Regions from separate parts of the Homo sapiens genome. Here region 1 is linked to region 2. Evidence: fine-mapped expression QTL. A gene starts in region 2. The other region holds a variant in brackets. All regions are shown on one strand. Distances are from middle to middle.

The links. PIP is the estimated chance that this variant, and not a neighbour inherited with it, causes the effect.
Region 1: its variant is fine-mapped to the expression of PIK3CD in whole blood (TOPMed, PIP above 0.99).

What each region holds. Positions count from the first base shown.
Region 1 is chr1:9,625,399-9,637,379 of GRCh38, forward strand. LOC105376712 (a long non-coding RNA gene) reads right to left here and starts at 4,029. Exons shown (of 2, transcript XR_946951.2): 1 at 3,826-4,029; 2 at 3,049-3,285. It also overlaps a transcript of PIK3CD not described here. RefSeq lists enhancers at 773-912, 2,100-2,564, 5,128-5,177, 5,208-5,267 and silencers at 1,653-1,992, 4,518-4,627. The variant G/C (reference allele first, on the strand shown) is at 4,683.
Region 2 is chr1:9,645,744-9,657,724 of GRCh38, forward strand. It overlaps PIK3CD (phosphatidylinositol-4,5-bisphosphate 3-kinase catalytic subunit delta), which reads left to right and starts at 5,988. Exons shown (of 24, transcript NM_005026.5): 1 at 5,988-6,059. It overlaps PIK3CD-AS1 (PIK3CD antisense RNA 1), which reads right to left and starts at 8,843. Exons shown (of 2, transcript NR_027045.1): 1 at 8,455-8,843; 2 at 6,867-8,300. RefSeq lists a silencer at 5,901-6,790 and enhancers at 6,971-7,040, 8,181-8,230.

The DNA of each region.
Region 1 (11,981 bases), 20 kb before region 2:
TTTTTTTTTTTGAGATGGAGTTTCGCTCTGTCACCCAGGCTGGAGTGTGGTGGTATGATCTTGGCTCACTGAAACCTCCGCCTTCTGGGTTCAAGCGATTCTCCTGCCTCAGCCTCCCAAGAAGCTGGGATTACAGGCATGCGCCCCCACACCCGGCTAATTTTTGCATTTTTAGTAGAGACAGGGTTTCACCATGTTGGCCAGGCTGGTCTCAAACTCCTGATCTCGGGCAGTCTGCCCACCTTTGCCTCCCAAAGTGCTGGGATGACAGGCATGAGCCACCACGCCCGGCAGATTTTTCAAGATATAATATCAAGTTGAGGGACAGCTCTCCCTCTTTGCCTTTCATTTCTTTCCTTCCCTTCCTTGGAAATTCAGTCCAAAAGGCACTGGGGGAGTTACAAGCCATGGAGCGGCCCCCCTGGGTGGCCAGGTGTGCCCATCAGACCTCCAGCCAGGTGAGGGTGGAAGTCACCCAGGAGGGCGACCTGCTGGGAGGTATCAGAGCCTGGCAGGGGTGGAGAGGAGGGAGTCCTCTCAGGGAGTCAGAGTGGAGTGAGAAAGGCAATTGGTGGGGTGTGGGAGCCCGAGTGGGGTGAGGCGGCACCTGGGACATGGCACTGGTGACCAAGGGCCCTACCCCACTTTACTCTTCTCCCTAGCACTTACCACTGTGCAAGATGTTAGGAATGTACTTGTTTGTTTCTGTATCATCAGCCGCGCCCACCCACCCACTAGAAGATCCTCCAGGGCAGGGACTTGGTCACTGCTGTATCCTCAGGGCATACTGGTGGCATTTGATAAAGTGCAGAATGAATGGGTGTAACTTGTAGCCCCTATCCCTTGACCATCTCAGACAGCAAGACTTGGCAACACCTGCATGAGGCTGCGGGCAAGAGAGAGAAGTGAACCCTGTTGGGGATTTCTGCTTTGACCACAGAGGAGAGAGGGGATAAGCTTTCGCTGAAGCAGAAAGGAAGAGTGAGCCAGGGGCAGATCCGGGTGGCCAGGGAGTCGGGTTGGGGCAGATTCCGTTTGCAGGGGCCTGCAAGTGCCTGGGTGGGGACGCCCCCAAGGCTGCTGGAGAGGGGGTCCGGGGCACAGGGTCGCAGAGCTGGGCAGGGAGGAAGGGAGGGTGAGCTCCAGGCTGAGCTGCCAGTACCAAGGCTGCGGCAAGCAGCTCTAGAACAATCTGCCACTTGCAATGCAGGAATTAAGAAAGGAGGCCAGGCGCGGTGGCTCACGCCTGTAATCTCAGCACTTTGGGAGGACGAGGCGTGGGCGGATCACCTGAGGTCAGGAGTTCAAGACCAGCCTGGCCAACATGGTGAAACCCCGTCTCTGCTAAAAATACAATTAGCTGGGTGTGGTGGCGCACGCCTGTAATCCCAGCTACTCAGGAGGCTGAGGCAGGAGGATCTCTTGAACCCAGGAGGTGGACGTTGCAGTGAGCCGAGATCGCAGCATTGCACTCCAGCCTGGGCGACGGAGAGAGACTCCGTCTCAAAAAAAAAAAAAAAAAGAAATGGGAGGTTTGGAGGGACACAAAACACAGTTTCAACAAAATGAGCTTTGCTGACTCAGTACCTGCCCCAGGACCCCAGCAGCGCCAGGGTTTACGCTCATTTCTCCATCCCTGGAGGAAGCGGGCAGGAGAGAAAGTGAATTCCGCTTTCCCAGTCCCGAGAGTGCGGCGGAAACCACGCGGCGCCGCCGGGCGGGCAGCAGGGGGAGCCGCTGAGCCAGGGGCTGAGGGTTGCAGGCGGCTGTGGCCTTGGCCAGGCATCACCACCAGGTGGCGCCGCGCGCTTCCCTGGCGCCCAACCCGGAGGCCGCGAGGTCGGGGAGCGGATGCCCGGGGGAGACGCCGGCTGGGCGACCTAAGGCTCCGGGCACCCGGGCTCCGTGGCGGCCTCTTTGCCTCCTGCAGGGGTGGCGGCAGCACAGAGGTGTGCACCTCCACAGCTGGCTTCACACCCGCGGAGATGGAAACCCGTGCACGAGGCTGAGAGCACGAGCATCCAACAGGCTGGGGTTTGAATCCCTGCGCAGCTGCCTGCACGAAGGCGTGGGCCTCGCCTCTCTCCACCTCAGACTTCGCGCCCGTCAGTGGGAGCATGACGCTGATCTCACAGGGCGGCTGTAAGGATTAAATTAGGTGACAGTGGTGATGATGATGATGATAACATGTGTACTGAGTTCTCATCCAGGTCTGGCATGGTTCTGGGCACTTTACAGATATTAACTTATGATTCTAGTTCCCTGTGATGTTGGGGTGGCTGAGGACCAGGGGCTGAGTCTCCTGCACAAAGGGAAGGGCGGCCAGGCCTCCCTTATCGCGGCCACCTTCCCTGCTGGCCCCGGGTGCTGTTGGTGCTGAGGGATGACTGCTGCCCAAAGGCAGTAGAGAGAGGAGGGGCCTTCGATGCTAAAGGCCAGGGGGCCTCTTGTTTCTAGTTCCGCAGCCCCGCAGCCCACGGCTACAGGGAACAGAGGCCGCGGGTGGCAGAGCCCCACTGTTGATCTGAGAACAATGGAGGAACCATGGAGGCAGATGGCACCTCCCGCAGGAGCCAGGGGGTTGAGGCTGCAGTGAGCTGAGATCGCGTCACTGCGATCCAGCCTGGGCGACAGAGCGAGACGCCTGTAGTCCCAGCACTTTGGGAGGCTGAGGCCAGTGGATCACCTGAGGTCACCAGTTTGAGACCAGCCTGGCCAACATGGTGAAACCCTGTCTCTACGAAAATACAAAAATTAGCTGGGCGTGGTGGCGCATTCCTGTAACCCCAGCTACTCGGGAGGTTGAGGCAGGAAAATCGCTTGAATCTGGGAGGCGGAGGTTGCAGTGAGCCAAGATTGTGCCACTGCGCTCCAGCCTGGGTGACAGAGTGAGACTCCATCTCAAAAAGAAAGAAAGAAAAATACTCTTAGCGCAGAAACATCCAGTCTCACAAAGCCCAAAGATGCCATTCTAGAATATACTAGAAGGATAGCTCAAACACTCACATTTTATGGGGGTTCACTCTGTGTCAGGCACGATTATAAGCATTTTTACATATATGAATTATTTATTTCCAACAGCAATTCTAAAAGTTGAGCACCGGCCTCCGCTGTGGTCTAAGCAACGCCAGAGCCTTCTGGGAAAGGCGCCCCTGCCGTGGAGGGAGGATGGGCCAGTGGTGGGTGAGTGGAGGCCACAGCTCAGCTCTGAGGTTTCAGCCTCAGTGACCGGGCAGACTGCCTTCTTTGCCTTCCTCACACGGAGGTGGCCCAGAGTTGGTGGCCCTGGTGAGATTGGTTGGAGGTGTGTTGAGTTTGAGGGCTCTGTGGAATGTTGGGGGGATTTCCAGAGGCAGCTGGAGGGGAAGAGCTGGTGGCCAGGGTGGAGGAGTGGGTGGTGAAGGAGGAGTGGGTGGTGAAGGACAGACGAGCTGCGGTCAAGACTAGGGAGACACTGGGCAGTAAGGGTGATCCCGAGGACTCAGATCCCCCAGGACCCTCGGAAGGAAAAGGTTGGGCGGTGGGAACTCCATGGGAAGGTCCCCAGAAGCCCCCGTTTGCCGTCTGTGGTCTGCCCTGGGGCAGGCAGGGCGAGGGGGCTTCATGACCCAAGTGAGGGGCGGGCCTGGGTGGGGAGTATTTTCAGCGGGTTCTCTCCCCACTGTCACCCCAGTGAGGCCACCTGAGGTCACCTCTTCCCCTGGGGGTCTCGGGCCACTGACGCCTCTAAGGACTGGGGCTGCTGTGAGTTGCGGCCCCGGGAGGAAAGGGTGAGTCTGAACTCACTTGAAGCTCTGAGTCCTGGGGCTTCAAGGCCACACCTACCTGAGTTTGTGTTGGGGGTTGGTGCCCTCCCTCTGCGGTTGTCACTGGGGTGCCTTCCCCCCAGGCTCCTTCTCCTCTTCTCCGAGAAAGAGGCCGGGGCACCTGTCCTCCCAGCTCACACATTCCAGGAACCCCCAGGGGAGGACGGTCCTCAGCAGCTGACCCTCTCCCCTTTCTTACCACCAGCCGAGAATGAGGATGTGCTGAGAAGCCAGAAACAGCACTCCCTGCCCCCCCACCCCCGCCCCCACCCACCACGCTCAGAGGCCTAGAACAAAAACATACCACAAATAGAAATCAAAGCCTGAGAAAGAATCGAGGAGCCACGACCCTGCCGTGGGAAAGGCTGTGTGACCTTGGCCAGGTCACTTCACTTCTCTGAGCGCACTTGCCTGTCTGTAAAATGGGGTCATGGTCTCAACCTTGGGGAGCTGCTGGGAGAAGGTGAGCTAAGATGTCAGAGGCAGGGTGCAGGTGTGAAGTTCGGTCTAAAACAAAGCCCCTCGCCACAGGGTACTCGCCGGACTCCCAGCTCGCCCTAAGGCTCCCCCACCCCTGCAGTCGGGCCGGGACCGCCCCTGAGCACTTCCCCGTAAGGCTGCGGTGCACGGGCTGGGGAGCACTTCTGCACCCTCGCTCTCCACTTCCTGTTTTTCTCCCCAACGAATTTTGCGCCATTACTCTTTCATGGGGTGAGGGGGGAGTGGGGGCGGAGGCGGAGGCCTGCCTGGGAAGGAAGCCCGGGGGTCAGAGGCGCCCAGGACACCACGAGGTTGGGAGAGGAGTGTGCTTTGCACTCTGCACTCTCCAGCTCAGAGTAGCTGAGGATGCTAGGGAGACTGGGGGCTGGCCCACGG[G/C]GGGAGCAGAGGAGTCCTCAGTGCGGTCCTCACTCTGAAAACAGCATTTTTCCCTAGGCTTGAGAATGCCTCCGGGATTGGACTGATCCAGGCTGGACCCACGTCTGTCTGGTGATACCAGGGGCAGAGGGACCACTCTGACAGGTGAGTCTAGCCTCCCTACCCCCCGGAGGCCGTCAGGCCTTGGATCATGGACTGCAGGGTCACTCGGTGTCAGGCCCCTCCTTGAAGGGTGTGAAGGGGCTGTTCCTGCACTGGCTAGGATGTGGACACTTGTCCTTTCTCTTCCTCGGCTACAGCCCCCTGGCCCCTGGGCAAAGCATCACCTTGTCCCTTCATGACCACATCACTCATGTATTCCTTCATTCAGCATTTCTACAGACTCACTGGTGATGCCCTCTGGGTGCCAGACACAGGGGAGCAGCCCAGGAGCCTGTCCAGATCCATGTAGAGTCCCTGCTCCCAGGAGCAGCTGAGCGAATAGGCAATCATGGTTGAGTAGACCAAGAGCTGGGAGGGGATGATATAGCCAGGAGTATGATGAAGGGCCCCTTCGGGCAAGGGGGCCAAGGCAGGTAACATCTGTGCTGGGCCCGAATTCTACTGAGTAGTTAGCAAAGAAAGTGAGTGTGTGTGTGTGTGTGTGTGTGTGTGTGTGTGCAGAAGAGGGCAGAAGGAAGTGTGGGGAAGGGCACTCCAGGTAAAGGGAACAGCATGTGCAAACGTCCAGAGTCAGACAGCAAGCCTGGGATGTTCTGGAGCTACAAGTCCCGGCTCCTGGCCCAGCAGGGAGGGCAGAGAGGGGGAAGTGATGGGAGGTGACCCTGGGAGGCTGGCTGGGTTGGCTCCATTCAGATGATTGGTCATCCATTTGTTCTCAAGCTATAGCCTCACCCTGCACACCGGGACAGAGTTCATGCCCCAGCCTAAGCTCAGAAACCAGCTCCCTTTCGCTCAAGCAGGAAAGGGGACTGACTTTACAGCAGAGATGCAGGGTGCTCTTATCAGACCCAGAGTTGCAGACAGCCCAGGGACACTTCTCAGTGCCACTCACCTGTCTGCCCCCATCTGCCCGTCTGCATCACACCTGTCAAGCTGCTACATCCTGGATCCCTTCACCCAAAGAGAACTATGTGTGGTCCCAAGCCCACCTCCCTGGGAAGGACTTGATTAGCCTGTGTTGGATCCAGGCCTCCCTTCCAGTCCGTTCAGCTGGCTAGTGGTCAAGTGTGAACGCTAAGCATCTGTCCTCATGGGTACATGACAAAGGATTACCAAAAGGGGGTCAGACTGGCCGGGTGCAGTGGCTCATGCCAGTAATCCCAGCATTTTGGGAGGCCAAGGCAGGCAGATCACTTGAGGCCAGGAGTTCAAGACCAGCCTGGACAACATGGTGAAACCCCGTCTCTACTAAAAATACAAAAAATTATCTGGGCATGGTGGCAGATGCCTGTAATCCCAGCTACTCAGGAGGCTGAGGCAGGAGAATCGTTTGAACCCTGGATGCGGTGGTTGCAGTGAGCTGAGATGGCGCCACTGCACTCCAGCCTGGGTGACAGCCTGGGTGACAGAGCAAGACTCCAACTCAGAAAAAAAAGGGAGGGGGGCAGGTCGGCCTAATGGCCTAAAGGCCAGTGGTGTCCATTCTAGTTCATTCCATTCTGGTCCTGCCCAGCACAGAGGCCCTTGCCCAGCTCCTTTGGCTTTTCCCAGATATCCTCATTCCAGTTGTCCTTGCTTTACCTCGTCCTGCCACACCTCAAAGTCAATCTCAAATACCTCTCCCCCGTCAAATGAGGTGATCCAAGCCATCTCACCATGTTAAACTGTTGCATCCAGGGCTCTATTCTCAGAGCTGCCATCTTCATCTGATATCCATCCTTCTTCCCTCCCTCCCTCCCTCCCTTCCTTCCTTCTTCTATCTTTCTTTTTTTTATTTTTGTTTTTTTGAGATGGAATTTTGCTCTTGTTGCCCAGGCTAGAGTGCAATGGTGCGATCTCAGCTCACTGCAACCTCCGCCTCCTGGGTTCAAGCAATTCTCCTGCCTCGGCCTCCTGAGTAGCTAGGATTACAGGCATGCGCCACCACGCCCAGCTAATTTTGTATTTTTAGTAGAGATGGGGTTTCTCCATGTTGGTCAGGCTGGTCTCAAACTCCCGACCTCAGGTGATCTACCTGCCTCTGCCTCCTAAAGTGCTGGGATTGCAGGCGTGAGCCACCGCACCTGGCTTCTTCTTTCTTTTTTTTAAAGACAGAGGGTCTCAACTATGTTGCCAGGTTGGAGTGCAGTGGCTATTCACAGGTGCAAGGATAATGCACTACAGCCTCAAACTCCTGGGCTCAAGCGATCCTCCCACCTCAGCCTCCCAAGTAACTGGGACTGCGGCCATGTGCCGTCATGCCCAGCTGCCCTCTGTTTCTGCTGAATCTCTTCCCTGGTGGCTCTCCAGGATCCTCTCAACAGAGGAACAGATCAATTTAACCTCTCCTACCATACTTGATCTATAGAGCAAAAATGTGGATGCAATATACAAAGCACGCGCTGCAGCATTCCAGGTGGGTTGGGTCAATTGAACATTAGGAACAAGGTATCACTTGGGGTTTGCTCTGTGGCTACCTTCCTTGGCCCCTTTGTTGACAAATGTGACTACCCCAAGTTCTGCCCATTGAGAAGGAATCTCTAGATCCCTTCTAGTCTAGAGCCTCTCAGACCCACCCTTGAGAGTTTCTTGGGAAGGCGGCTTCTAGGAGGTGATATAATTACCTTAGCAACCTGATTCTTTTTTTTTTTTTTTTTTGAGACAGAGTCTCGCTCTGTTGCCCAGGCTGGAGTGCAGTGGTGCCATCTCGGCTCACTGCAAGCTCCGTCTCCAGGGTTCAGGCCATTCTCCTGCCTCAGCCACCTGAGTAGCTGAGACTACAGGTGCCTGCAACCACACCCGGCTAATTTTTTGTATTTTTAGTAGAGACGAGGTTTCACCATGTTAGCCAGGATGGTCTCCATCTCCTGACCTCGTGATCCGCCCGCCTCGGCCTCCCATAGTGCTGGGATTACAGGCGTGAGCCACCGTGCCTGATCAGCAACCTGATTCTTGTTGGTGCTGGTACTTTGGCTTAGGAATTCTCCAGGTGGGGATGAGAGATCACAAACCCCAATTTGTCAGGCGTGGTTTCCTGGTTTTCAACTCTCGTAAAACGCTAGTTGGTTGCCTGTAACTTTTATTTGGGATCATGCCATTTACCAATAATCAATGTCGCTCTTGTCGCCCAGGCTGGAGTGCGATGGCGCAGTCTCGGCTCACTGCAAGCTCTGCTTCCTGGGTTCAAGTGATTCTCCTGCCTCAGCCTCCCTAGTAGCTGGGATTACAGGTGCTCACCACCACGCCCAGCTAATTTTTTGTATTTTTAGTAGAGACGGGGTTTCACTATTTTGGCCAGGCTGGTCTCAAACTCCTGACCTCAGGCCATCCACCTGCCTCAGCCTCCCAAAGTACTGGGATTACAGGCGTGAGCCATCGGGCCCAGCTAATGTCATGAAATCTTATGCGGTTGAACATTCAGCCTTAGACTAGGTCATAGGTCATGTCCCCGAGGTTTGGGTTTCTTAGCAGCAAATGTGAGGGCTAATTTCTTCTTTCAGCCTAAGAGTGAAAAGAGGAAATCATCGTCTGGCTTGGGATAGAAAGAAGGTTTTTTTTCTCTAATTTCTCTTGGAATGCTACCTCTGCCTGCCCTTCTACCACTGGACAATAGGAGATACCATCATGTTTGTCTGGGAAGAGGAAGTTCTTAAGAGGGACCAGAGACCTGTAATCCCAGGAGGTTAAGGGTTGTGTGCTCCTGTGGCTCTTTCCAGATATTCCCATTCCAGTTACTAGGCTCACAGACTTTTCCTTTTTTTCTTTTTTTTAGACAGGGCCTTGCTCTGTTGCCCAGGCTAGAGTGCAGTGGCGTGATCTCGGCTCACTGCAACTTCTACTCCAGGGCTCAGGTAATCCTCCCTCCTCAGTTTCCTGAGTAACTGGGACCACAGGTGTGTGCCACCACACCTGGTTAATTTTTGGGTTGTTTTTTTTTTTTTTTTTTTTTTGAGACAAAGTCTCACTCTGTCACTCAGACTGGAGTGCAGTGACATGATCTCAGCTCACTACAACCTCCGCCTTCCAGGTTCAAGCGATTCTCCTCAGATTCTGCCTCAGCCTCCTGAGTAGCTGGGATTACAGGCGTGCATCAGCAGGCCTGGCTAATTTTTGTATTTTTAGTAGACACGGGGTTTCACCATGTTGGCTAGGCTGGTCTTGAACTCCTTACCTCATGTGATCCACCAGCCTCGCCCTCCCAAAGTGCTGGGATTACAGGCGTGAGCTTCCATGCCTGGCCCTAATTTTTGTATTTTTTGTAGAGATGGGGCCTCGCCATGTTGCCCAGGCTGGTCTCAAACTCCTGAGTTCAAGTGATCTGCCCGCCTTGGCCTCCCAAAGTGCTGGGATTACAGGCATGAGCCACTGCGTCCAGCCTCCAAGTTTCTTAACACTTCAGCCTTTGAGTCCCATGAGGTCACTGAAAATAGTTTAACTCATCTGTTAACACAAAACAAGAACTGCCAGTGTCCCATCCAAAAATAGGAAAACCTCATTGCCCCTCACTCTGCCTCGAGTCAGCTAGTTTCATACTTTCTTTGAAAGTAACTTGAAACTTAACACCCCACTTCTGACACCAATATGTGTATTATTTGGGATTTTTTTGTTTTGAATAACAATATCCAACTCAAGAGAGTTTATACTGAGCTGACTATTGTCTCCCCAAAATTTGTGCTTACCCAGAAACTCAGAATGTGATCTTAATTGGAAATAAGGTCTTTGCAGATGTAGTTAGTTGAGATGAGGTCACATTGAACTTGGGTGTCCTTATAGGAAGAGGGAAATTTACACCAGACGAGGTGGCTCACGCCTGTAATCCCAACACTTTGGGAGGCCAAGACGGGTGGGTCACCTGAGGTCAGGAGTATGAGACCAGCCTGGCCAGCATAGTGAAACCCCCTCTCTTAGCCAGGCGTGGTGGTGCACTCCTGTAATCCCAGTTACTCAGGAGACTGAGGCAGGAGAATCGCTTGAACCTGGAAGGTGGAGGTTGCAGTAAGCCAAGATCTCACCACTGTACTCCAGCCTGGGCAACATAGCAAGACTCCATCCTGAAAAAAAAAAAAAAAGCTACAGGAACCAGGAGCTGAAAAGATGAGAATTTTCTTTCTCATCTGTGTCCCTCTCTTCCTCTCTGTGCATCTGCTGCATGATTCTCCCCCACTCTCTCTTCCTCTGCATATCCGCTCCTCTGATTTCTTTAGTCCTTTTGAGGGCAAAAGAGGCCCTGCAGCTCGCTGGCTCCATGTTAGACCACCCACGCTCCAGGTGTCTAAAGAACACTAACTCTATTCCCTTGATTCCAATTCCATATTCCCAGGGAAATCACTGATTGGCTCGCCTTGGGTCAGGTGATACCCCTGGTCTTATCAACTTGGATAGGGTCAAGGGCATGCTGGGCAGTCACACCTGACTGGAGACTGCTGGTGTAGCCATGTGGATGCGTGGGGGATCTCCTAGAGCCGGAGCTGGGCATCCATTGCCATAGCACTGTGCTCTTGCCATCTTGCAATTGCCTGGATTACAGCTGCAACTGGTTGAGGCTCTGCTGTCCACTGACAGACTTCTCCCATGCCAAGTGCATTCCTAAAGGAGTCCTTCTGATGGGTTCCCATCCCTGTACGGGGCTGCCCCTGTTACTGATGGAGCAGGCAGACATGTGAGCATCTGGCTGCCACAAATAGGGCCTGGAGCCCAGACAGATGAAACACTTGCCCATCCAAGGTCCTGGTATGAGCAGCAAGAGGGATTCGCTCTGACTTGGGAAAGGAAGTAAATAAATAAATACCCAGCTTTTTAATCTTACATTTATGTATTTTTATTACACTGTTAGCAAAATGTGAGCAGACAGACAAAAATGGAGATAAAACATTTGAAGCCCCACCTCTCTCTCAGCTTCCATTGTTCTAAGTCCCCTCCCACTGTGCCCATGTGTGTATGTCACACACAGTTGTGACCCAGGTACAAACAATTCTGCATTTTTTTGGGGGGGGACATGGTCTCACTCTGTTGCCCAGGCTGGAGTGCAGCAGTGCAATCTTGGCTCACTTCAGCCTCCACCTCCTGGGTTTAAGCAATTCTCATGCCTCAGCCTCCCCAGTAGCTGGGATTACAGGTGCCCACTACCATACCTGGATAATTTTTGTATTTTTAGTAGAGACAGGGTTTCACCATGTTGGCCAGGCTGGTCTTGAACTCCTGGCCTCAAATGATCCACCCACCTTGGCCTCCCAAAGTGCTGGGATTACAGGCATGAGCCACCTCACCAGGCTTTGCATTGCGTTTTTTCAGCGGAAGACACCATCAGTTCCCATGATGCTGTGGGTCTTCAGAATTGTCATTTTCAGTGGCTGCTTGCTCTTCCATTGAGTGGATGTACCATGCCTTTCTCTGGACGGTTCCAGCCATAGGGAGAAGGCAGCGGCTGGCCCTCCAGGTGGTAATGTGACACATTTTCTTCCTCCCATTTTTGGTTCATGGGCCAACTTAATGTTATCGCTTGTCCAATAAGCCCTATGCCCCTCCTCCTACCCGGCTTCAGGGTTGTAGAAAGGCCACCAAGGAGGGCGAAGCGCACAGCTTAGGGCTTAGGTGGATAGAGTTCATGAACCTCCACCTATCAAGTTGGTGATCTTGGCAAGTTACCTATGGCATGGTTTCTTTTTTTTCTTTTCTTTTCTTTCTTTTTTTTTTTGAGACGGAGTCTCTCTCTGTCACCCAGGCTGGAATGCAGTGGCCCGATCTCGGCTCACTGCAAGCTCCACCTCCCAGGTTCACACCATTCTCCTGCCTCAGCCTCCTGAGTAGCTGGGACTACAGGCGCCCGCCACCACGCCCGGCTAATTTTTTGTATTTTTAGTAGAGATGGGGTTTCACTGTGTTAGCCAGGATGGTCTCGATCTCCTGACCTCATGATCTGCCTGTCTTGGCCTCCCAAAGTGCTGGGATTACAGGTATGAGCTACTGGCCCTGAGGCCACATCTTTATACTTCTCATTTTATTGGCTGCATAATAATCCATAGAAGAGGCCAGGTATGATGGTCCACACCTGTGATCCCAGTGCTATGGGAGGCTGAGGTGGGAGGATTGCTTGAGCCCAGGAGTTTGAGACCAGCCCAGGCAACATAGTGAAACTCCATCTCTACAACATTACAAAAA
Region 2 (11,981 bases):
TACAGGTGCCCGCCACCATGCTCAGCTAATTTTTTGTATTTTTAGTAGAGATGGGGTTTCACCTGTTGGCCAGCATGGTCGTGAACCCCTGACCTCAGGTGATCCACCTGCCTAGGCCTCCCAGAGTGCTGGGATTACAGGCATGACACTGTGCCTGGCCGTATTTTTATTTTTTATTTTTTATTTTTTTATTTTTATTTTTATTTTTAGTAGAGATGGGGTTTTGTCACGTTGGCCAGGCTGGTCTCAAACTCCTGGCCTCAGGTGATCCGCCCACCTCAGCCTCCCAAAGTGCTGGGATTACAGGCGGGAGCCACCGCACCTGGCCGAAAGTGAAACTTCTTAGGACAGAGGCCTAACGAGACCCATGGCATGGTGAAAGTAGCAAGGATCTGGAAGAAGTTATTATAATAGATATTTATAGACTGTGTGGCCCTGAAAAAGGACTCAACTTTCCTGAGCCTCAGTTTTCTCATCCGTAAATTGGGGATAAGATTTACCTTGCTGGGCGGTTGTACGTATCAGGGAGAAAATATAACTTCTCCTCAGCCCCGGTAAGTTCATAGTTGGGACAGCCCGCCGTAACAAAAGACAGATTCACGTGAAAACCAAGCAAGTTTATTAACAGATGCAGTGCACATCACGAGGCAGAAACCTCAATGAAAGGTGACCCGAAGCAGTGGCTCAGAACTCTGGCTTACCCAGAATCTTTGACAAAGAAGAATGAATTTTCAAGAAGTGACAAGACAAGGGAAAGCAGTTTTAGGCTTCCAGAGGTGGGGAACTGTGGGAAGGTAAACATATGGGAGAAAAGGAATGGAGGAAGGTTTGTTTGTAGACTCTTCTGGTGTCTCCGAGCTGATAAGCGTTGTCTCCAGTAAAGTAGAATTTATGTCCTGTATTTAGGCATGTAAAAAGTCAAGACTGAGCCAGGTGTGGTGGCTCACGCCTGTGGTCCCAGCACTTTGGGAGGCCGAGGCGGGCGGATCACCTGAGGTCAGGAGTTGGAGACCAGCCTGGCCAACATGGTGAAACCCTATCTCTACTAAAAATACAAAAATTAGGGCCGGGCTTGGTGGCTCACGCCTTTAGTCCCAGCTACTCAGAAGACTGAGGCAGGAGAATCGCTTGAACCAGGGAGGCGGAGGTTGCAGTGAACCAAGATCGCACCACTGCACCCCAGCCTGGGAGACTCCATCTCAAAAAAAAAAAAAAAAATTAGCTGGGCATGGTGGCGGGCGCCTGTAGTCCCAACTACTTGGGAGGCTGAGGTGGGAGAATTGCTTGAAGATGGGAAGTGAAGGTTGCAGTGAGCCGAGATCGTGTCATTGCACTCCAGCCTTGGTTACAAAAGTGAGACTCTGTCTAAAAAAAAAAAAGTCAAGACTGGCAGGGCAGGATGGTTCACAGCTGTAATCCCAACACTTTGGGAGGCTGAGGCTGGCAGATTGCTTGAGTCCAGGAGTTTGAGACCAGACTGGGTGACATGACAAAACCCTGTCTCTACAAAAAAATTAGCCCATGCCTGTAGTCCCAACTACTTGGCAGGCTGAGATGGGAGGGTCACTTGGGCCTGGGAGACAGAGGTTGCAGTGAGTTGAGACTGCACCACCGCACTCCAGCCTGAGTGACAGAGTGAGACCCTGTCTCAAAATAATAATAAAACAATAATCATCTTTTAAAAGTTAAGATTACAACAAATCTAGTTTACAGATCTTAACTTTTATTCATGATTCTAATTATTATTATTATTATTATTATTATTATTATTATTATTAGAGACGTGGTCTCACTTTGTCACCCAGGCTGGATTGCAGAGGTGAGATCACAGCTCACTGCAACCTTGAATTTCTGGGCTCAAGGGATCCTCCTTCTACCTCAGCCTCCCAAGTAGCTAAAACTACAGGCACATGCCACCATGCCTGGCTAATGTTTTATTTTTTGTAAAGATGAGGTCTCACTATGTTGCTCAGGCTGGTCTTGATCCTCTAGCCCCAGCCTCCCAAAGTGTTGGAATTCCAGGTGTGAGTCATCCTGGCCTACTAATGAGTCTAAAATTGGGAGTCCCTCAGAACCAGGACAGGTTCAAAGGGCTTCAGCCAGTAACACAGTCAGAGTGTTTATGGATGTAAAACAGAAGTAAGCTATAGAGCTTAATTGGTTACAGTGTTTGCTTTGTTTGAATCAGTTGGCCACCTAAGATCTACTAAAGCTCAGCTGCTATAACTGACAAAAACTCAGCTATTTGCTACATGTATATACTCTTAAGTTAATTAGTTTCATTTACCATGAATGACTCCATATTGGTTTGGTCTGTTGGACCCGGTACAGGGGTCTTGTCCCAATCAATGGCCTCCTGCAAATTTTATTTAACAGGCAGAAAAGGGGAGATGATAGAAAGATCTCTTCATCTGCCTGCTGCTTCTTAATTGCCTTAAGTTCAAAAATATTTACGTCAAAGAGGTATATTTTGGGGGGACATATTCTGGTTTCCTTCATGGGGATCAAAGAGAACAATATGTAAGGCACATCTTAGCGCTTGACAACTTGGCATGCCTCCATTCTCCCGGCAGCATCTTGCATAGTAAAAAGCATGATTTGAATTGCTGTCAGCAAATACATATTCAATGAAGAATTCCTTTGGAAGATGCAAAACCATTCGTCATCTGGCTGTTTCTTGAAACAAACTCTAAAGACCAGAGGGCAGCGTTGAAAGTGCAGCCTAGCAAAAGCATGGTTAAGGCCAGGTGTTAGGAAACCTTAGGACGGGCCGCTCCCTCAGGACAGGCTGCTCACTCGGCCGTCAGAGTTCCTTCTGAAACGTCCATTTGTCTTCTGGCTCTTGGCATCCTTGAAACAGGCTAGAGACCGCTGCTAAGGCTCAGTAATCTGAGCCTGGGGTAAGCAAGAGGCTGTGAGCCTCAGACACTCCACTAGAAAGGATATACTAGTGTGCATTCCTGGGGACAGGCCCAACGTTCCTTCCAAAAGGGACCTGTGGTCCTTCCTGGCTCCTCTGCAAGTGTCCACTGGAGAACACAGAATCTGCAGCCTGCATCTTAGAAAACCTGGACCAGGCCGGGCGCAGTGGCTTATGCCTGTAATCCCAGCACTTTGGGAGGCTGAGGCGGGCAGATCACCCGAGGCCTGAGTGTGAGACCAGCCTGGCCAACATGGTGAAACCTCGTCTCTACTAAAAAATACAAAAATTAACCAGCCATGGTGGCACGCATCTGCAGTCCCAGCTACTTGGGAGGCTGAGGCATGAGAGTCGCTTGAACCCGGGAGGCCAAGGTGGCAGTGAGCCAAGATCATGCCACTGCACTCCAGCCTGGGTGACAGAGCAAGACCCTGTCTCAACAAACAAACAAACAAACAAAAAAAGCAAAAACAAAAAAAACTGGAACAATTGAGCAAGCCACTCCATCTTACCCAAGCCCTCTCCCCTTTCCTGGCTGGAATAACGGCCTCTGGGCCTCTCTCTCGCTCTTTTTCTTTTTTTTTCAAAGCAGAATCTCACTCCATCACCCAGGCTGGAGTGCAGTGGCACAGTTATGGCTCACTGCAGTCTCAACCTCCAGGGCTCAGGTGATCCTCCCACCTCAGCCTCCCGAGAATCTGGAACTACAGGTGCACACCACTAAACCCGGCTAATTTTTTCTATTTTTTTGTAGAGACTGGGTTTTGCCATATCACCCAGGCTGGTCTCAAACTCCTGGCCTCAAGGGATCCTCCAGCCTCGTCCTCCCAAAGTGCTGGGACTACAGGCCTGAGCCATCATGCCTGGCCTGGGCCTCTGCTTATTGCAGCCTCTGGAGCCAGCACGGGGCCCAAGGTGGTCCTGAGAGGCCCAGGCATCTCTTGGGTAGAAAAAGTCCTTCTCTAAGCCTCAGATCCCTCATCTGTCCAAGGGACCAATAACAGCTGCTTTACTTCCCAGGCTGGATTGAAGAGGGTCCTTTAAGCCATTGTTTCACTAAGCAATTGACTGGCTCACCCTTCACCCTATCCTGGGAGGGCATGAAGCCACTGTTGTAATCTCAGGGGTGGGCTCACCCACCACCCCCATACTCTTGGTCCACCAAAGCCTGGAGGTCGCTGCTGTCAACCCAGGGCTGAGCAAGGAGGGACTTAGGCCCTGGGCTGTCTCCCCGAGCCTCTCAGTCATGCCTGCTGTAGGGGAGGAGAGAGTGGCCTCCCTCTACCCTCTAAATTCCTTGGCTGGGCTCCACATTAAATTTACATAAGGCAGATTAACAAGAGAAAAACCATGTGTAACTAAGACCTATGCATGGGAATCCCACAAAATACAAGACTGGATGAAGGCTCAGATGAATAAAGCTCATATAACATCCTACAAGGGACAGGAAACATTCCTTCAGAAAGGAATAGGGCTTGGGTCAGGTGTGGTGGTTCACGCCTGTAATCCCAGCACTTTGGGAGCCTGAGGCGGGTGGATCATGAGGTCAGGAGTTCAAGACCAGCCTGGTGAACATGGCGAAACCCCACCTCTACTAAAAATACAAAAATTAGCCAGGCACGGTGGTGTGCACCTATAGTCCCAGCTACTCAGGAGGCTGAGGCAGGAGAATTGCTTGAACCCAGGAGGCTGAGGCTGTGGTGAGCCAAGATCACGCCACTGCACTCCAGCCTGGGCAACAGAACAAGATTCCTCAAAATAAACAAAACAAAGAAACAAAACAACAAAAAACAAACAAAAAAACATGAAAATCAGCTGGGTGTCGTGGCGTGTGCCTGTAATCCCAGCTACTTGGGAGGCTGAGGTAGGAGAATTGCTTGAACCCAGGATGCAGAGATTGCAGTGAGCCGAGATGGCACCACTGCATTCCAGCCTGGACAACAGAGCAAGACTGTCTCAAAAAAAAGAAAAGAAAAAAGAAAAAGAAAGAAAAGAAAAGAAAAAAAGGAATAGAGGCTTGGGATCCTGGGGAGGTGGTACACAAGTTAAGGGAGAGTGAGGGGAGAGAGGGTAAGGTGAATGAAGCTTGTCTTCTTATGCGGATAAAATTTCTCAGGTAAGAAAAGTTAGCTCTGAGCAGCCCTCCGCCTGATACTAATACTTTACCAATGGAGATTTTCCTTTTCTTTTCTGTTTTTGAGACAGGGTCTCACTTTGTTTCCCAGGCTGGAGTGCAGTGGTGCCATCATGGATCACTGCAGCCTCCATTTCCCTGGCTCAAGCCATCCTCCCACCTCAGCCTCCCGAGTAGCTGGGACTACAAGGTGTGCACCACCACGACTGGCTAATTTTTAATTTTTTTGTAGAGACGGGGGTTTCCCTATGTTGCCCAGGCTGGCTTGAATTCCTGGGCTCAAGTGATCCTCCCGCCTCGGCCTCCCAAATTGCTGGGATTGCAGGAGTGAGCCACAGTGCCAGGCCTGGAGATTTTCTTTATAGATAGAAATCATTTTACAAAAGGACAGCTTTTCAGATCTACTCCTGTGCCTGCAGTTTCTAAGAATAATCCCTTCAAAATATGGCGAAGAAGTATATTTTGGGGTGGCACACGCTGGTCTCCCATAGTCACATTTTGGGTGTGTGTCCTGAGCCCCAACACTGGTCACCTCGCAATGGCGCTTGGGGTCCCTGGGTGCCTAGAGCTGCAGGTTACCCCCTCTTCTTCTCCTGCTCTCAGCCTTTCTCCCGCTCCTGCTGAAATTCTTTCCTGCGTGAAGGCGGAGCGCTTAAAGGCGCCTAGGACCTTTATTTCGTTGTTTTCCTTTGCATAAAAAGAAAACTTGTTTTGTAGAAGGGCAAGCAAGGTGCAGCTTCCAGAGGCACCTGGGATGATGCCCCTCTAGCGGTAGGCGAACTGGGGAGTGTGGGCGGCGGGGGAAGGCGAGGCCCTGGAGGACCTGTTGTTTTTCCTGTTGCAAGTGAAAAGGAAACAAAGTGGGAAGTGGAGTGTGCGGGTTGGCGGCAGGCGGGGCGCCCCGGCGCGCCCCGCCTCCCTCCCTCGAGGCTCACTCGCGCCCAGCGCAGTCGCTCCGAGCGGCCGCGAGCAGAGCCGCCCAGCCCTGCCAGCTGCGCCGGGACGGTAAGCGATCGCCGCTGGCTGCGTCAGGGGAGGTGGGAAGAGGACCGCGGCCAGGGGCTTTGGGAGCTGCGGCTGCGCTCGGGGGCGCGGGGCTGGCTGGCGGGCGTCTCTCCGGCACACACAGCCCGTGCGCCCTGGCCCTGGGCGCCTCCCCGAGTCTAGCGAGCCGGGTCCTGGGAGCCCCGGGGGCCGGGCTGCTGGGACCTGGGCGGGGGCTGCCCTAGAGGCCCGGGGCCGTCCCCCGTGGGCCCGCCGAGAGGGGCGTGCGCAGCTCCCCGGCGCCTGCACTGCGCGCCTTGCCCGCCTGGCCCGGCAGCGGGGTTTCAGCTGCGCTCACAGCGGCGGTGCGGCCTCCGGTGCGCCGGCTGAGGCGCGAGGATACTGGAAGCGCTCAGCGCGTGCGCCCGCTCCGAGCGCTGACTAGAGGACCAGGGGCCTCCTCTGTACGGCAGCGGGGTCCACAGAGAGCGCGCTGGTGATGTCGCCCGAGTGCCCTGGCGCGGAGAGAGGGCTGCGCACAGTTCGCCGGCGCCCGGGTCCTGTGCGCCCTTCCCAGCCTGGGCAAGTGGGGAGCGGGGCTGCAGAGGGGCCGGGGTGGAAGTTTTCGGGGCTTCCTCCCGGCTCGTGGACCCGCGCCCCGCCTCCCAGTCCCGGGCCTCCCGCGTTGCTCGCCGCGTTTGCTGCAGCGGCGCAGGCGAGATCAGCTCCGGATCTGCGGCCGAGCCGGGGTTACGCCGGCAAAACCGCCCCCAGCTTTGCATTTCCGGACTTTTTAAAAAAATACTCTTACCCGTAATTCAGCCTGAATGAGGCTTTTTAAAAAAATCGAGTTTCCTGTTTTTATTTAGGCTTCCTCATTTGCACCTCCTCCTTTGAGGTAGAGAAGAGGGGAACTGGGACGACCTTTCGTGGGCACCAGGATGGGGGCGTTGCAGGGCGGGGAGACGGGGGTCCAGAGAACCGGGGAAGGGCCGCTGGGAGGTCCCGAAAAGTGCGCTGTGGGTGGGGCGAGGGTGAAGCAGGTAGGGGCGAGATTTCCGGGGTCGCGGGTGGGGGGCGCCCTGGAGCGGCCAAGGTGCAGGGTCCTCGCGTGGCACCCTTGGGATCTGCCCAGTTTGCGGATGGAGCGCGGGGCTGATCGGGCAGGTCTCACTTGTGCAGGTGTTCCCTGGAAGGTGGGACCTGCAGATCTTGAACCCCACCAGACTCCATCAAGGGGGCTTCTTCCCGCCGATTCCTGAGAAGTCCTACCTCTGAGATGCTGGGCACAGCCGCACGTGGATGTGGGCGGGTGTGCCGTGGGTTGGAGTGGGAAGGGGCAATTATTCCTCTCTCAGGGCTCTCGGAGGGGAAGGTTTACTGCTCCCTAGGGACTTTGAAACCAAGGGCTAACCCCCTGCTCTCTTCCAGGAGAGTGGGATACCGCCCGGGTGCCTGACGGTGCCTTGGTGTTCTTGACAATTGAATGGTACCATCGGGACATTACTCCCCAAAGAACTGGTCGTTCTTACCTAGGTGATTTCAGCTGGACAACTGTAGGAGCTGAGTGGTGTTGTCTTCATTTTACAGTTAAGGAAACGAAGGCTCAGAAAAGTTAAATAACTCACCAACCCACACAGTTTACAAGTAGTTTCTCCAGGATCCCAGCTCTTTCCGACGCCAGCGCGTTTAATCATCTGGGGGTGCCGTTGCTTGCGGGGGAAGGAGAATGTCCTAGTAATTCTCTTGGGGGGGATTTGGAGGGGACGACTGTTCAGAGAGGCACCCTCTAAGATACCCTTGAGACTCCTCTGTAACACCCGCTGCTGCTGTTCACACCCCCTCCCCAATTTGATTGATGTGTTGAGTGGGGCGGAAGGTTCTTTTGGTTGATGAGGCTGCGACCAAACGCAAGGAGATATAAATAGAGCTTTCTCTTTGGCTCTCTCTAGAGCAGAAATGCCAACCCCTTAGCATTTCCATGGCCTGCTGGAGTTTCATTTCTTGATATTAGGATTCCAGCCATCTTGGCTGGTGAGAGGCCTGCTGGCGGCTTCCTGGGCTTGGTCCTCTTTTGGTGCTTTCACAGAATGATGGAAGACACTGGAGTGGGCTGGAGGAGTGCTCTTAAAACCCAGTTGTGGCTGAGAGCGGTAGCTCATACCTGTCATCCCAGTGCTTTGGGAGGCCCAGACGGGAGGATCACTTGAAGCCAGGAGTTCAAGGTTGCAGTAAGCTATTACAGTGCCACTGCGCTCCAGCCTGGGTGACAGAGCAAGAGCCCATCTCTGAGAAACATAATACAACAACCCAGTTGCCTGCTCCAGAGACAACTAAGCTAGCCTCCTTCTGAGCCCCACTTCCCCCGCCCTTCAGCCCCTGTTCAGAAACAGACTACATTGGCCACACTACTCACTTAGATGTTTCTGGAATTAGGGCACGTGCCCCAGAGGTACTCCCGACCACGCAGATGTCCCCTTCTGGCAGGAAAAGCGCGTTTCTGCGTTTCTGCAGCCTCAGTCCACGCCGCCAGGTCTTTGCACTAAGCTGTGGGCTCCGTTTCTCCTCCGATACCATGTTTAGCAAGTGTTTCCTGAGATCACACGGGGTGCCAGGGGCTGTGCTAAGAACAGGGCAGGCAGACTGGGAGGGCATCAGCCCCTGGGGGGCTTACAGGACAGACAGTCCACCAATGGTTGTGCGAAAGCCAGCCCGCTTTCGCACAACTGTCCGATGGAATTCATGGAGGTGGGAGTGGGGATGGTGAGAGTCGGTTCCTGCTTCATCTTGTTTTACTTAAATTGCACAGTGAAAGGGAGAAGTGAATGTGCAACGGATGAAGCAATTCCCCTTTGGCTGGGTTATTTTCAAAACCATTTTTGTGTAGAGAGCAGTTCCCGCCCTCCCTGAGGCCAGCTGCCGGTGTGGGCCTGATGGTGGGGTTTGGGGCCCCAGCAAATGTTTCCTTAACGTGGGACCTTCAGAAGGCTCTTTCAGGCTGGGCGCGGTGGCTCACGCCTGTAATTCCAGCACTTTGGGAGGCCGAGGTGGGCGGATCACTTGAGGTCAGGAGTTCAAGACCATCTTGGCCAACATGGTGAATATCTGTCTCTACGAAAAATGCAAAAAAAAAAAATTAGCTGGGCGTGGTGATGAGCACCTGTAATCCCAGCTACTTGGGAGGTGGAGGCAGGAGAATCGCTTCAATCCGGGAGGTGGAGGTTGCAGTGTGCTGAGATTGTGCCACTGCACTCCAGCCTGGGCAACAGAGTGAGACTACATTTCAAAAAAAAAAAAAAGAAAAAAAAGCTCTTTCAGCCAGGAGGGTGGCTTCAGCTACTCCCCAGGGGACAAGTGTGTTTTTCAGCAAAGCTGTTAGAGAAGATGGTCTAGAAGCAGTACCCCGGGATGGAGGAGACAAGGAAGGGCCCTATCCACTGGAGGATGGCAGAGCCTGGCTTGTTTGAAAGGGAGGAAAATATTGTCATCTTGGTACCGGTGACAGTGTTTCATAAATAGCGAAGGTGGCAAAACGCCACCTCTCTCCCTACAGTTAACGCTAAGACTGAGTTGTCTTTAGTTTGGTTGGTGGAAATCCCCGGCAATCATAGCAGAAATGCTGCCAGTTTCAAGATGGAAAAAATAAAAAACCCAGGAACCCCCCGCCCCCCCCCCTTTTTTATTGCAGCTAAACACTGTGACTTGCTGTGGGTCCTACCAAAATAACGGCCATTCTCCCCTCCCTGAGGGCCAGCACAGTCCCTAGGGCCTGTGAAAGTTCCCCTTCCAGCTGCACTGGCTGGATATGCGTGAAACTCCCCTCCCTCCCCAGAAGTCACAACCTTACCACCTCGGATAAGGGTCAGGGCTCCTGGAAATGGGTCCCTTTTCCTATTACTTTCTTTCTTTTTTCTTCTTTTTTTTTTTTTTTTTTGAGACGGAGTCTCGCTTTGTCGCCCAGGCTGGAGTGCAATGGTGTGATCTCGGCCCACTGCAACCTCTGCCTCCAGGTTCAAGCGATTCTCCCACCTCAGCCTCCTGAGTAGCTGGAATTACAGATGTGCGCCACTATGGCCAGCTATTTTTAGTATTTTTAGCAGTGACGGTGTTTTGCCATGTTGGCCAGGCTGGTCTCGAACTCCTGACCTTAGGTGATCTGCCCACCTTGGCCTCCCAGAGCGCTAGGATTAAAGGCGTGAGCCACCATGCGCGGCCTTCCTATTACATTCTGAGCACAGGGGGAGTGATCAGAGTGAAGGGTGTGGCATTTCCAAAGTGGTATTTCGGTTGGCTTCTGTTTCACTCATATTGGGGGAAATTGCTTCCACTTAGAGAAAATGCCGGAAGAGTGGGCGGTGCCAGGAGTAGGGTGGGGGAGGAGGAGATGCAGAAAGGGATAGACCTATTTGGGATTTTTGGTCCTGGAGGGATGCTGTACGGGTTAAGTATCCCTTATCCAAAATGCTTGGGACCAGAAATGGGGTGGAGTTTGGATTTTGGAATATTTGCATTATATGCTTACCAACTGACCATTCCAAATCCAAATATCTGACATCTGAAATGCTCCAAGGAGCTTTGTATTTGATCATGATGGCACTCAAAAATTTTGGATTTTGGAACGTTGTAGATTTCAGATTTGGGATGCTCAACCAGTGTTAACCTCCTGTGGTTGCTGTAACAAATGACCTCAAACTTTGTGGCTTAAAACAGAAACGTGCATGCTTATAGTTTCAGCTACTTGGGAGGCTGAGGTGGGAGGATCACTTGTGCCCAGGAGTTTGAGGCTGCAGTGAGCCATGATTGAGCCTGTGAGTAGCCATGGCACTACAACTTGGGCAACATTGCGAGATCCTGTCACTAAAAGAAAACAACAGCAATGGGCCGGGTGTGATAGCTCACGCCTGTAATCCCAGCACTTTGGGAGGCTGAGGCGGGTGGATCACCTGAGGTCAGGAGTTCAAGACCAGCCTGGCCAACATGGTGAAGCCCCGTCTCTACTAAAAATTCAAAAATTAGCCAGGCGTGGTGGCACGTGCCTGTAGTCCCAGCTATTCGGGAGGCTGAGACAGGAGAATTACTTGAACCCAGGAGGCAGAGGTTGTAGTGAGCTGAGATTGTGCCACTGCACTCCAGCCTGGGTGACAGAGCGAGACTCCATCTCAAAAAAAAAAAAAAAAAAAAATGTATTCTCTCACAGTTCTGGAGGCCAGAAGTTAAAAATTAAGGCATCAGCAAGGCCTCGCTCCCTCTGGGGGCTGTAGGGGGAGAATCCTGCTTTGCTCTTCCTTCTGGGGGCTCCAGCGTATCTTGGCCTGTGGCTGCATCACTCCAGTCTCTGCCTCCGTCTTCACAAGGGCATCTCCTCCGTGTGTCTGGGTCTCCGTCTGTCTCTTTTAAGGACACTTCTTGTTGGATTTAGGGCTCCCTCAGATAATTCAGATAGAAATCATTTCAAGATCCTTAACTTACTTACATCTGCAAAGACCCATTTTCCACATTATTATTTTTCCAGATAATGTCCAGGTCCTGGGGGTTAAGACCTATCTTTGTGGGGGCCACCAATCAGCCCGCTTACAGATAAACAGGAATGTCTTTCTGTATTTTCTGGGGACGGTGGGAAGTGCGGTTATCTTTGCAGGGAAGCCGCCCTGTTCTGCCACTTTCCCCTGGGTGACTTTAGGCAAAGATGTCAGAGTCCCTGGTGGTCTCTGCTGGACCATTGACCCCAGCCTCCTTCCTGCTTTCCGTTCCCCAACTTTTATGAACTGGCAGTCCCCACCTCACCCCCAACCTCCTGGGGTCCCAGGAGCAGAAAACTTCTGGAGCTCAGGAGGAGAAATGCTTCTCTTACTTTCCCTCCCCAACAAACTCCTCCCTCTTTATCTTCAACAACAGTCCCTGCCCTCCGCAGCCCATTCCCAGCCCAGGGCTACTCTCTCTCTC